Homo sapiens: one gene and its partners. The protein of the gene in region 3 interacts with the protein of the main gene of each other region in a pairwise test. Each region holds a gene or a part of one and is shown on either strand. Other genes may lie near its edges. The genes, in order: MAPK6, ABTB1 and EEF1A2.

Evidence for each region.
Region 1: the proteins of EEF1A2 (region 3) and MAPK6 interact in a two-hybrid assay, tested with the Homo sapiens proteins (one large-scale study listed by BioGRID and IntAct).
Region 2: the proteins of EEF1A2 (region 3) and ABTB1 interact in binary tests that used the Homo sapiens proteins (3 or more experiments, as listed by UniProt).

The regions. Positions count from the first base shown.
Region 1 is NC_000015.10:52,043,135-52,046,786, forward strand, and holds part of MAPK6 (mitogen-activated protein kinase 6), read left to right. Parts: intron 1-643; exon of another isoform or gene 644-2,530; intron 2,531-2,695; 5' UTR 2,696-3,326; coding exon 3,327-3,652. UniProt on the Homo sapiens protein: Atypical MAPK protein. Phosphorylates microtubule-associated protein 2 (MAP2) and MAPKAPK5.
Region 2 is NC_000003.12:127,675,920-127,678,808, forward strand, and holds part of ABTB1 (ankyrin repeat and BTB/POZ domain-containing protein 1), read left to right. Parts: intron 1-50; coding exon 51-195; intron 196-352; coding exon 353-512; intron 513-616; coding exon 617-662; intron 663-1,047; coding exon 1,048-1,164; intron 1,165-1,248; coding exon 1,249-1,367; intron 1,368-1,545; coding exon 1,546-1,644; intron 1,645-1,756; coding exon 1,757-1,924; intron 1,925-2,889. UniProt on the Homo sapiens protein: May act as a mediator of the PTEN growth-suppressive signaling pathway. May play a role in developmental processes.
Region 3 is NC_000020.11:63,492,568-63,496,219, reverse strand, and holds part of EEF1A2 (elongation factor 1-alpha 2), read left to right. Parts: intron 1-184; coding exon 185-364; intron 365-1,118; coding exon 1,119-1,415; intron 1,416-2,932; coding exon 2,933-3,083; intron 3,084-3,652. UniProt on the Homo sapiens protein: Translation elongation factor that catalyzes the GTP-dependent binding of aminoacyl-tRNA (aa-tRNA) to the A-site of ribosomes during the elongation phase of protein synthesis.

The DNA of each region.
Region 1 (3,652 bases), on a different chromosome or scaffold from region 3:
AAACAAACAAACTGGTTTTCCTAGGGTATTTAGTGGGGAGCGAGCAGGAAGAATCAAGATGTGTACAAACAGAAAAAACTTGGTGGGAGGGAGACATGCAGTATTAAAGCCCTTTTTAAAAATCTGAAACTTTTTTACCAATACAAAAATTATTTTTATTTTTTATTTATTCATTTTTTTTGAGACGGAATCTTGCTCTTTTGCCCAGGCTGGAGTGCAGTGGCGTGATCTCACCTCACTGCAACCTCCACCTCCCAGGTCCAAGCGATTCTCTTGCCTCAGCCTCCCGAGTAGCTGGGATTACAGGCACCTATCACCACGCTGGGCTGATTTTTGTATTTTTAGTAGAGACGGGGTTTCTCCATGTTGGTAGGCTGATCTCGAACTCACGACCTGAGGAGATCCACCTGCCTTGGCCTCCCAAAGTGCTGGGATTACAGGCGTGAGCCACCGCGCCTGGCCACAAAAATTTATTTTTATTACTTATTTCCACTATCACATGAGCTAGATCATATAACAACATTGAAAATCCACTGGCTAAAGACCAAAGACAGACTAATGGCTCAGCTAGATAATAGCAAATGATATGTTGGACTTAAGTTGTTTGATTTTTTTTTTTTTTTTTTTTTTTTTTTTTTTTTTGAGGCAGAGTCTCGCTGTGTCCCCCAGGCTGGAGTGCAATGGCAGGATCTCGGCTCACTGCAACCTCTACCTCCCTGCAACCTCTACCTACCTGGTTCAAGCGATTATCCAGCCTTACCCTCCTGAGTAGCTGGGACTACAGGCATGCGCCACCACGCCTGGCTACTTTTTGTATTTTTAGTAGAGACGGGGTTTCACCATATTGGCCAGGCTGGTCTTGAACTCCTGACTTCGTGATCTGCCTGCCTCGGCTTCCCAAAGTGTTGGGATTACAGGCGTGAGCCACCGTGTCCGGCCTTGAGATATTTTTTTAATTCAAAAGTTTATTCACAAACTTCAACTTTTAAGTGTTTTATTACAGATAGACTGGTAAGCTACAGAATTTTTAGGACTTTTTTTTTGGGGGGGCGGGCTAGGAGGGCTGATTTCTGAGAAGCAGAGAAAAACTTGTAGACAGGAGAAGCCGTTTCTGTTACAGTAAAATAAAGCTATTATACTATTAGTATCCTTCATGATATTAAGCAGATACAAGACCCGTTCTTATTTATTAAAAGAACTGAGGGATATAGTAAGTATCAGTTTTTATTAAAGCTGTCTTTCTCCTATTGGACAATGAGTTGCGTTTACTGAGGGCCAGAATCCTTTTGCTCATATCAGGTTTGCTCCTGCCTAGCATATAGTAGTTGCTCAATATATGTTTATATATTAAACGAATAAATTGGTGGCTTTATTCTTTCTGCCTAAAATATTGTCTGGTCTTATTTGTTAGGAATTCTGACCACCTGATTTTCCATAATGCCTCATATCTGGTATTCTGGGTACTCTGCAATTAGGCCATTAAGAAACTGAAAGAACCAAGTTGCATTTTTTTTTTTCCAGGCTGGCTAGGGAACCATCTACTGGAGTTGAGGCTATTTTTTCCTGCCCTTTTATAGGATATTTTTTAAAGTATGAAATATTTTAAGTGTACAGAGATCAATATAATGAACCTTCATATACATACCACCCAGCTCTATAAGATTCTAGTAATCTGCCATGTTTGTTATTTTAAAATAAATAACACATTAAAACGCAGATAAATGATTCTGGTCTCTTTCCTTAATCTCCGGGTAATCATTATGAATTTGGTATTTGTCTCATTTTTTTTTCCTTTTTTTTTTTTTTTTAGTTTTGCAATATACATATGTACTTACCAAAAAAAACTATTTTGCATGCATATAACTACTTATCTGTTCTCCTATTTTATGAAGTTGAGGTTGTTTCTAATTTTCTTTACCAAAAAAAAATGAGCATTTCTCTAGGGAGTTTACTGTGAAGAAAAATGGCCGGGTCATAGAGTACGCTATTTATTTATTCATTTATATGTTTATGCCAAATTGCTCTGAAGTTTTTACTAATTTAAACTCCAACCACTATTGTGTGAAAGTTTGTTTTTCTACACTCCTCAGACTTGACATTAACAGAGATGCATGTTTTTTCAATCTGAAATGTTCTCTTAAGGTAATCTTTTCCTATCAGTCACATTAAATACCTTTTCATAGGTATTATTCATTGTTCAAGTTTACTCTTATAAGTTGAAGAACATTATTTGCATATTTGTGCTGTTAGATTTTTGTTCATTGGATATTGATAGGCATAGTTAATAAGTAAACATGCTTTTTAACAAACTAACACATTGCAGGCTTCTTCTATATTCTTTTAGATATTTAGATAGATGTTACTAACGTTTTACCCCTCACAAAACTCAAGTTCTATAAAAATATTATGAACCTTCCCATACTTGTTGGCATTTCAGAAATGGTACAACCTAATGAGCCTGTTACCAAGAATCTAGTGTAGTGAAATCTGGAGCCCGGGCCAACGTGTGTGAATTGCTGATAACATTTTTGTAAGCTATTTTTGATTAAGGGTAATTTGTCACTTAATGACCATAATTAAGTTTAATGTACCAGTAGTAGTTTATTGCTAAATGCCTACTTTGTGTCATACTACAAATTTGAAGAAAAGAGTATTTCCTGCAATGGTGACTCTCTTCTTTTTCTCATCCCCCCAGGTTGTATCAGAGTAAGATGGACGGTAGCTTTGATTGTGATTGTGGTGAGCTGGAGCCACCTGATCACTAACAAAAGACATCTTCTGTTAACCAACAGCCGCCAGGGCTTCCTGTTGAAATAAATATATAGCAACAAAGGAAAAAAAGAAGCAAAACGGAAATAGTGCTTACCAGCACCTTAGAATGATGCTGCTCAGGACCAGTCCAACACTGAATGTATCTGCACTGTGAGGAGAATGTTCATAGAAGCCTGTTGTGTGCATATTTATTCACATTTTTGTTAAATGTTAAATCGTTTAGCACGGTAATCTGAGTGCACAGTATGTCATTTCATTCCGTTTGAGTTTCTTGTTTTCGTTAAATGTCTGCAGAGTTGCTGCCCCTTTCTTGAACTATGAGTACTGCAATCTTTTTAATTCTCAATATGAATAGAGCTTTTTGAGCTTTAAATCTAAGGGGAACTCGACAGGCCTGTTTGGCATATGCAATGAACATCAAGAAACCATCTTGCTGTGGAAGCATAATTATTTTTCTTCTCCCTTTTTGAAAGATCTTTCCTTTTGATGCCAGTTTTCTTCCTTGTTTACACAAGTTCAATTTGAAAGGAAAAGGCAATAGTAAGGGTTTCAAAATGGCAGAGAAATTTGAAAGTCTCATGAACATTCATGGTTTTGATCTGGGTTCTAGGTATATGGACTTAAAACCATTGGGTTGTGGAGGCAATGGCTTGGTTTTTTCTGCTGTAGACAATGACTGTGACAAAAGAGTAGCCATCAAGAAAATTGTCCTTACTGATCCCCAGAGTGTCAAACATGCTCTACGTGAAATCAAAATTATTAGAAGACTTGACCATGATAACATTGTGAAAGTGTTTGAGATTCTTGGTCCCAGTGGAAGCCAATTAACAGACGATGTGGGCTCTCTTACGGAACTGAACAGTGTTTACATTGTTCAGGA
Region 2 (2,889 bases), on a different chromosome or scaffold from region 3:
ATTTCCCCCAGGCCCCTTCCCTGCTAACTGGTGAGCCCTGCCTCCCCCAGGAGCCCGCTGCGAGGCCAACACCTTCGATGGTGAGCGCTGCCTCTATGGGGCACTGAGTGACCCCATCCGCCGGGCTCTACGCGATTACAAGCAGGTCACGGCTTCCTGCAGGAGGCGGGATTACTATGACGACTTCTTGCAGCGGTGAGCCAGGGCACACGAGGGGTGCAGCATGGGGTGCGGTGGCCCTGGTGGGTGTGGCGAGTCTGCTCTGACTGTGGCCTGCACTGGGTTCTGAGTGCTCCGAGGAATGGGGTGGGGCTGTGCCAAGTATCCTCCCTCCTGGCTTGTCCCTCCCCAGGCTTCTAGAGCAGGGCATCCACAGTGACGTGGTCTTTGTAGTACACGGGAAGCCATTCCGGGTGCATCGCTGCGTCCTGGGTGCACGTAGTGCCTACTTTGCCAACATGCTGGACACCAAATGGAAGGGCAAGAGTGTCGTGGTTCTCAGGCACCCACTGGTATGTCCCTTCAGGGTGGCAGAGGGGCATGAACTGTCCAGGAACAGCAGGAGGTTGTGCTGGGTGGCTGCCTCTGACATTACTTTCTGGTTTTCTGCCCACAGATCAACCCCGTGGCCTTTGGGGCCCTGCTGCAGTACCTGTACACAGGTGACCCCCTGGGTCCAGGGTAGGAGGAGAGGGAGTGGGCCGTCCTTCTGGACAGCAGTACACCTAGGTGTGGCTGGGCTGACCTTTCACCTCTAGACACTTCATGGTCCCCCCGGGGTGGTTCCAGCTGCCTCTCGGGTTGGGTTGCAAGAGAGAGGACTAGTGTGCCTGCTCAGGAAGAGCTTGTCCCACCCACATGCTGAGGCCCTCCCATCTGTTCCCTGGGGCCTGTAGAACAGCTTTTGATGGGGAAACCATGGTGGCAAGTGGGCCCAGGAGTCCTAGTCCTGCAGCCAGGTGGCCAGGTGGGAGGGGATCACCCTTTTTCTGTGGGCCTGATGACAGCTGAGGTCCCGCAGGCCCTCATCCTCCCCACTGCCCCCAGGCCGCCTGGACATTGGCGTAGAGCATGTGAGTGACTGTGAGCGCCTGGCCAAGCAATGCCAGCTGTGGGACCTGCTCAGCGACCTGGAGGCCAAGTGCGAGAAGGTGTCTGAGTTTGGTGCGAGCAGGGTTTGGGGCCCGGGGCCATGGGTGCGGCCTGGCAGGGCTGGCCTGGCTCCCTGAAGTTGTTCTTCCCCTGTAGTGGCGTCTAAGCCAGGCACGTGTGTGAAGGTGCTGACCATCGAGCCCCCACCTGCAGACCCCCGCCTCCGGGAGGACATGGCGCTGCTGGCCGATTGTGCCCTGCCCCCCGAGCTCCGAGTAAGTGCGGGGCTGGTGGGCAGGAAGGGCGTTTTGGGATGGCAGGCCGTGACAGGCAGCCCAGATACTTGGGCTCAATTCCTTGTGTGGTCCTGGACCAGTTACTTCCCTTTTCTGAACCTAGTCGTTCACTTCTGTGAACAACTGCTCTGATGGGGTCACCTCTTCTGTACCCCAGGGTGATCTTTGGGAGCTGCCCTTCCCTTGTCCTGACGGCTTCAACAGCTGCCCTGACATCTGCTTCCGAGTGGCTGGCTGCAGCTTCCTCTGCCACAAGGTGCCTGTGCCCTCCTGTTGCCCCTGGCCCCAGCCCGTTGCCCTGAGCCCCCGTCTAGCTCCTCAGGAGACAGACCCTGGCCCTCACACTTCCTGAGCCCGGCCTCCCCCAGGCCTTTTTCTGTGGCCGCAGTGACTACTTCCGAGCCCTGCTGGATGACCACTTCCGAGAGAGCGAGGAGCCAGCGACCTCAGGGGGCCCCCCAGCCGTCACCCTGCATGGCATCTCACCCGACGTCTTCACTCACGTGCTCTACTACATGTACAGCGACCACACTGAGGTGGGGGCTCAGGCAGAGCTGGGGATGGCACACAACCTGTGCTGCCGTGGGCTGAGAGGGAGCGCCAGGGCCCTGGGGGTCTGTGGAAGGGCCCAGCTGGCCCCATGGTTGACGTTTTGAGAAGGCTGGAGGGGAAGGCTGTGGGACTTTGGATTTTTCTTTCAGGTAGAGGAAGCCTTGTTGGGCTCCAGAGAGAGGATGAGTGATGAGCCTGTGTCACAGACACTCCACACTTGTCAGCCACTTGGGATCCTCAGCTTCTCTAGCAGGAGGGTGGAGGGTGGGTGGGGACAGCCTCCTCTCTGTGGTGCTGCAGATCCCTGGGGTTCTGGGTTCCCAGTCTCCTCTTCCCTTGCTGCCTGCCTCTGTCTCCAGCTGCCCCAAGGTGTCCGTAAGCCAAGGCTGCAGGGCAGCAGCAGAGTGCTGAAGGTTTGCTCTGCCAGGGTGTGTGAGAGAGAGAGAGAGTGTGTGTGTGCGTGCGCGTGCGCGCGCACTATAAAGCAATCCCCATATCTGGTGGCTTAAAGAAGAGGGGAGTTTGTTTCTCCTTCACTTCTGACTGAGGTGGGTGCCCCAGGGCAAGTGGCTTGCGGAAGATCAGGTCATCCCTCCATCTTGCCCCTGTATGCCTAAGGGTGAAGGTCAAAAACCTTTTCTCTGAAGGTGAGTGTTTCAGGTTCTGTGGGCCATATGGCCCTGTTGTAGCTACTCAACTCTGTAGCGCAAAGGTAGCCAGAGACAGTACAGAGATGAGTGGGTGAGGCTGCATTCCAATAAAACTTTACTTGCACAAACAGGCTGGATTTGGTCCACAGGCCGTAGCTTACCCATCCTGCCTGGGGCATCGCGTTTGGCCATGGAGATTGGGTCCTAGGCAAACTCATGCTCTAGGAGGAAGAGGAAGGCAGGGCAAGCAATGCTGTTTTTGTAGAAGCCACCGGAAATTGCACCACTTCTCATGTTCC
Region 3 (3,652 bases):
GCAGGGTCTGGGTGTGGGGTCCCGACGGAGGGGGCCGGCGTCCCAGGACCCCGACGGAGAGCAAGGGGGTGCTGGAGCCCATCTCCCGCCTCTCGCGGCCACTCTGCTGTAACAAGCAGCTCGCACCACCAGGGACTCCTGGGTCCCGGGTCCCGCCCTCAGCCGTGACCCTCACCCGCTCCAGATGGGGAAGGGATCCTTCAAGTATGCCTGGGTGCTGGACAAGCTGAAGGCGGAGCGTGAGCGCGGCATCACCATCGACATCTCCCTCTGGAAGTTCGAGACCACCAAGTACTACATCACCATCATCGATGCCCCCGGCCACCGCGACTTCATCAAGAACATGATCACGGGTACATCCCAGGTGAGCAGGGCACAGCAGGCGGGGCTGGGGGAGAGGCCGCTGCACCCTTCAAGGGACACTGGGGGCCCCTGGGGTCACTGGGATGGTAGGGTCTCCTGTGCTTCCTGTGAGGGCAGGGGACCCCTCACCTGGGCCACCCTCACCCAGTCTGGCTCAGAGCCCCCCTAAGGATGAATCCAGTGCTCTGGCATCTGAACCAGTGCCTGTGAAGGCATCCAGCCAGTGTCAGAGTCCCCAGATAGATGGGGGCAGATGGGGACGTGGACACACCTTCATACATGGAGGGGTTGGAGGCCAGGATGGGGAGAGTGAGCAGTGGGCAGAGGTGCCACCCGCCAGGTGTAGACTGTATGACATTTCAGGGCACTCACAGAGACGCACGGACACCCCAGACACAGCACCCTGCAGACAGCAGGACACATGCCACCACCTCCAAACTGCTTTGATAACTGTGACTTCTATCCGTCCTCAAGTGAGGAACAGGAGCAGATAGGCTGAGTGACTTGTCCAGGGACACACAGCCCACTGGTGGTGGAGCCAGGGCTGAACCTCGGTCCCCTGACCCAGGGCCTGGCGATGAGCCCCCATGCTGCCCTTGAAGTGGGGACCCCCATGCCTCCCTCCCCAAGGCCCCAGTGGGCTGCTCAGGCCCCAGCCCGCTGCCTGGAGAGGCCTGGAAGTGAGGTGGGGCCAGGCTCGCTCTGTCCCCTGCCAGGCAGGCGGGGCAGGGCTCACTGTGTCCCCTGCCGGGCAGGCGGACTGCGCAGTGCTGATCGTGGCGGCGGGCGTGGGCGAGTTCGAGGCGGGCATCTCCAAGAATGGGCAGACGCGGGAGCATGCCCTGCTGGCCTACACGCTGGGTGTGAAGCAGCTCATCGTGGGCGTGAACAAAATGGACTCCACAGAGCCGGCCTACAGCGAGAAGCGCTACGACGAGATCGTCAAGGAAGTCAGCGCCTACATCAAGAAGATCGGCTACAACCCGGCCACCGTGCCCTTTGTGCCCATCTCCGGCTGGCACGGTGACAACATGCTGGAGCCCTCCCCCAACGTGAGTGGCGGCTAGGGCGGGGCGGGCCACGGGAGCTGGCTGGACCCCCTGGCCCAGAGCGAGGCACCGGCAGGTGGCACGGGGAGGTCGAGGGCCTGTCCCCGGGAAATGCAGGTTCCCCTCGAAACCTGCTGGGTTTCCCTAACTGGCTCAGGGCCCGGCGGGGAGCCCCATGCCCCTCAGCACCGGGCTTTGCTCCTACACTCAGCCTCCCACGCGGCTGGCCGGGGCCAGGGCCCATCTACGATGTCAACACAGCAGGGGCAGCGGCCTCCAGCACCAGGCCCATGTGCTTGGTCTCCAGAGCCCTGCCATGGGGGCGGTCGGTTTCATCTCTGCCAGGCCATTGTCCTGGTCCTGGACACCGTGCAGGGGCTTTGGGCTGGGCCGTGGGGGCCTCCTTGGCTGCCTCCCCTGGGATCTTGGAGCAGGGTTGGGCTTTGGGAAGTGTGCATGCTTCTGGGCTTGCTGGGATGGCCAAGGGTTGGCTCTTGGCCGGTCACCTGGGAGCTCAACGTGCGAACAGTCTGTAGCCCAGGGACTCTGCCTTGGCTGGAGGTGACGCGTGGAGACACTTGCAGAACCTGAGACTGTTCCCAGGGTTCTCCAAGCCAGAGGAGACCCCAGAATGGCCACCACTAGGCTCTGCCAGCACTGTCGCTGCCCACAGTGAGGGTGCAGGTGTGGAGTCTAGAGACAGCAGGGAGACAGACCAGCAGCACTGAGCCTGGAGCTGAGGTCTGGGGACAGAACTGGGAGGGACTCCCCCAGCTCCGCCTCCATCTCACGAGGCTCGGTGTTGTTTACCTGTGATGGCGTTTTCCTCATGGGGTATCATGTGGCGAACGCCACTCTCCCCTCCCCAGGGAGGCCTCCAGCCATCAGGGACCCTGCACTCCCCTCTGGCCTGAGCTGCTAGGTGGCTCGTGCTTACACAGGCCCTGGGGGGCTGGGGCACTGTGCTGCCGGCCCCCTCCCCTGCTCCCTGTTTGTGGCAGGTGGCCCAGAGGGAGGCTTCATGGGATGGGAGTGGGGGCCACACTAGGAGAAGCTCCGGACAAGGCTGGGCCAAGCTCGGAGGCAGCACGGTGTCCAGAAGCTAGGGTGGGGCGAGGCTCCTCCAGCTCTGTCCCTGGCCTGGCCCTTGGCCAGACTCAGCATCCTCCTAGTCAAGTCATCTGCCCTGCCTGGAGCTGATGGTCAGGGGCCCGGGGTTTCGGGGACTTGGGGCTGGACTGGGGATTTGTTCACAGTGTCAGCAACTCCTGAGCAGCCTGGGCTGGGAAGGGTGCTTTCCCTCTTTGTCCTCCTCCTTTTAAGAGGGATCTCCTTCCCAGAGTCCCTGTGATGCTGGGGCTATGGGCTGGGGAGGAGCAGGGTGGGGAAATTCCTCATCTCAAAGGGCACGAGGCAAGTTTAGCCTGAACAGCAGTACTCCTGGAAGCACCCTGGGGAGGCCTGAGGGTGGGGAGGCCACCAATGTCTCTTAACGGATTGATTTTCTCCCTTTGGTCCAGATGCCGTGGTTCAAGGGCTGGAAGGTGGAGCGTAAGGAGGGCAACGCAAGCGGCGTGTCCCTGCTGGAGGCCCTGGACACCATCCTGCCCCCCACGCGCCCCACGGACAAGCCCCTGCGCCTGCCGCTGCAGGACGTGTACAAGATTGGCGGTGAGCAAGGGCGCTGTGCTGGAGCTCCTGCCTGGCCAGCTCTGCCTGCCCTAGACCAGGGGCCCCTACAAGGCATCTCAAGACTGGGCTGTCTCCAATCTCTCCCCTTACCACACACTTTCTGTGGGACAGTCCATCCCACATCCATCCATCCATCCACCCACCTCCCCACCCATCCATCCTCTGTCCATCCATCCACCCATCCATCTATCCACCTCTCCATCCATCTATCTATCCATCCATCCATCCATCGATCCATCCATCTCCCCACCCATCCATCCTTCACTCCATCCATCCATCCATCCATTGTCCCATCCATCCTTCTCTCTATCGAACCATCCCTCCATCTCTCCATCTATCCACCTCCCCACCCATCCATCCTTCTGTCCATCAATCCATCCATCCATCCATCCATCCACCTCTCCATCCATCCATCCATCTCCCCACCCATCCATCCTTCTCTCTATCCATCCATCCATCCATCCATCCATTGATTGTCCCACCCATCCATCCTTCTCTCTATCCCTCCATCCATCCATCCATGCATCCATCCATCCATTGTCCCACCC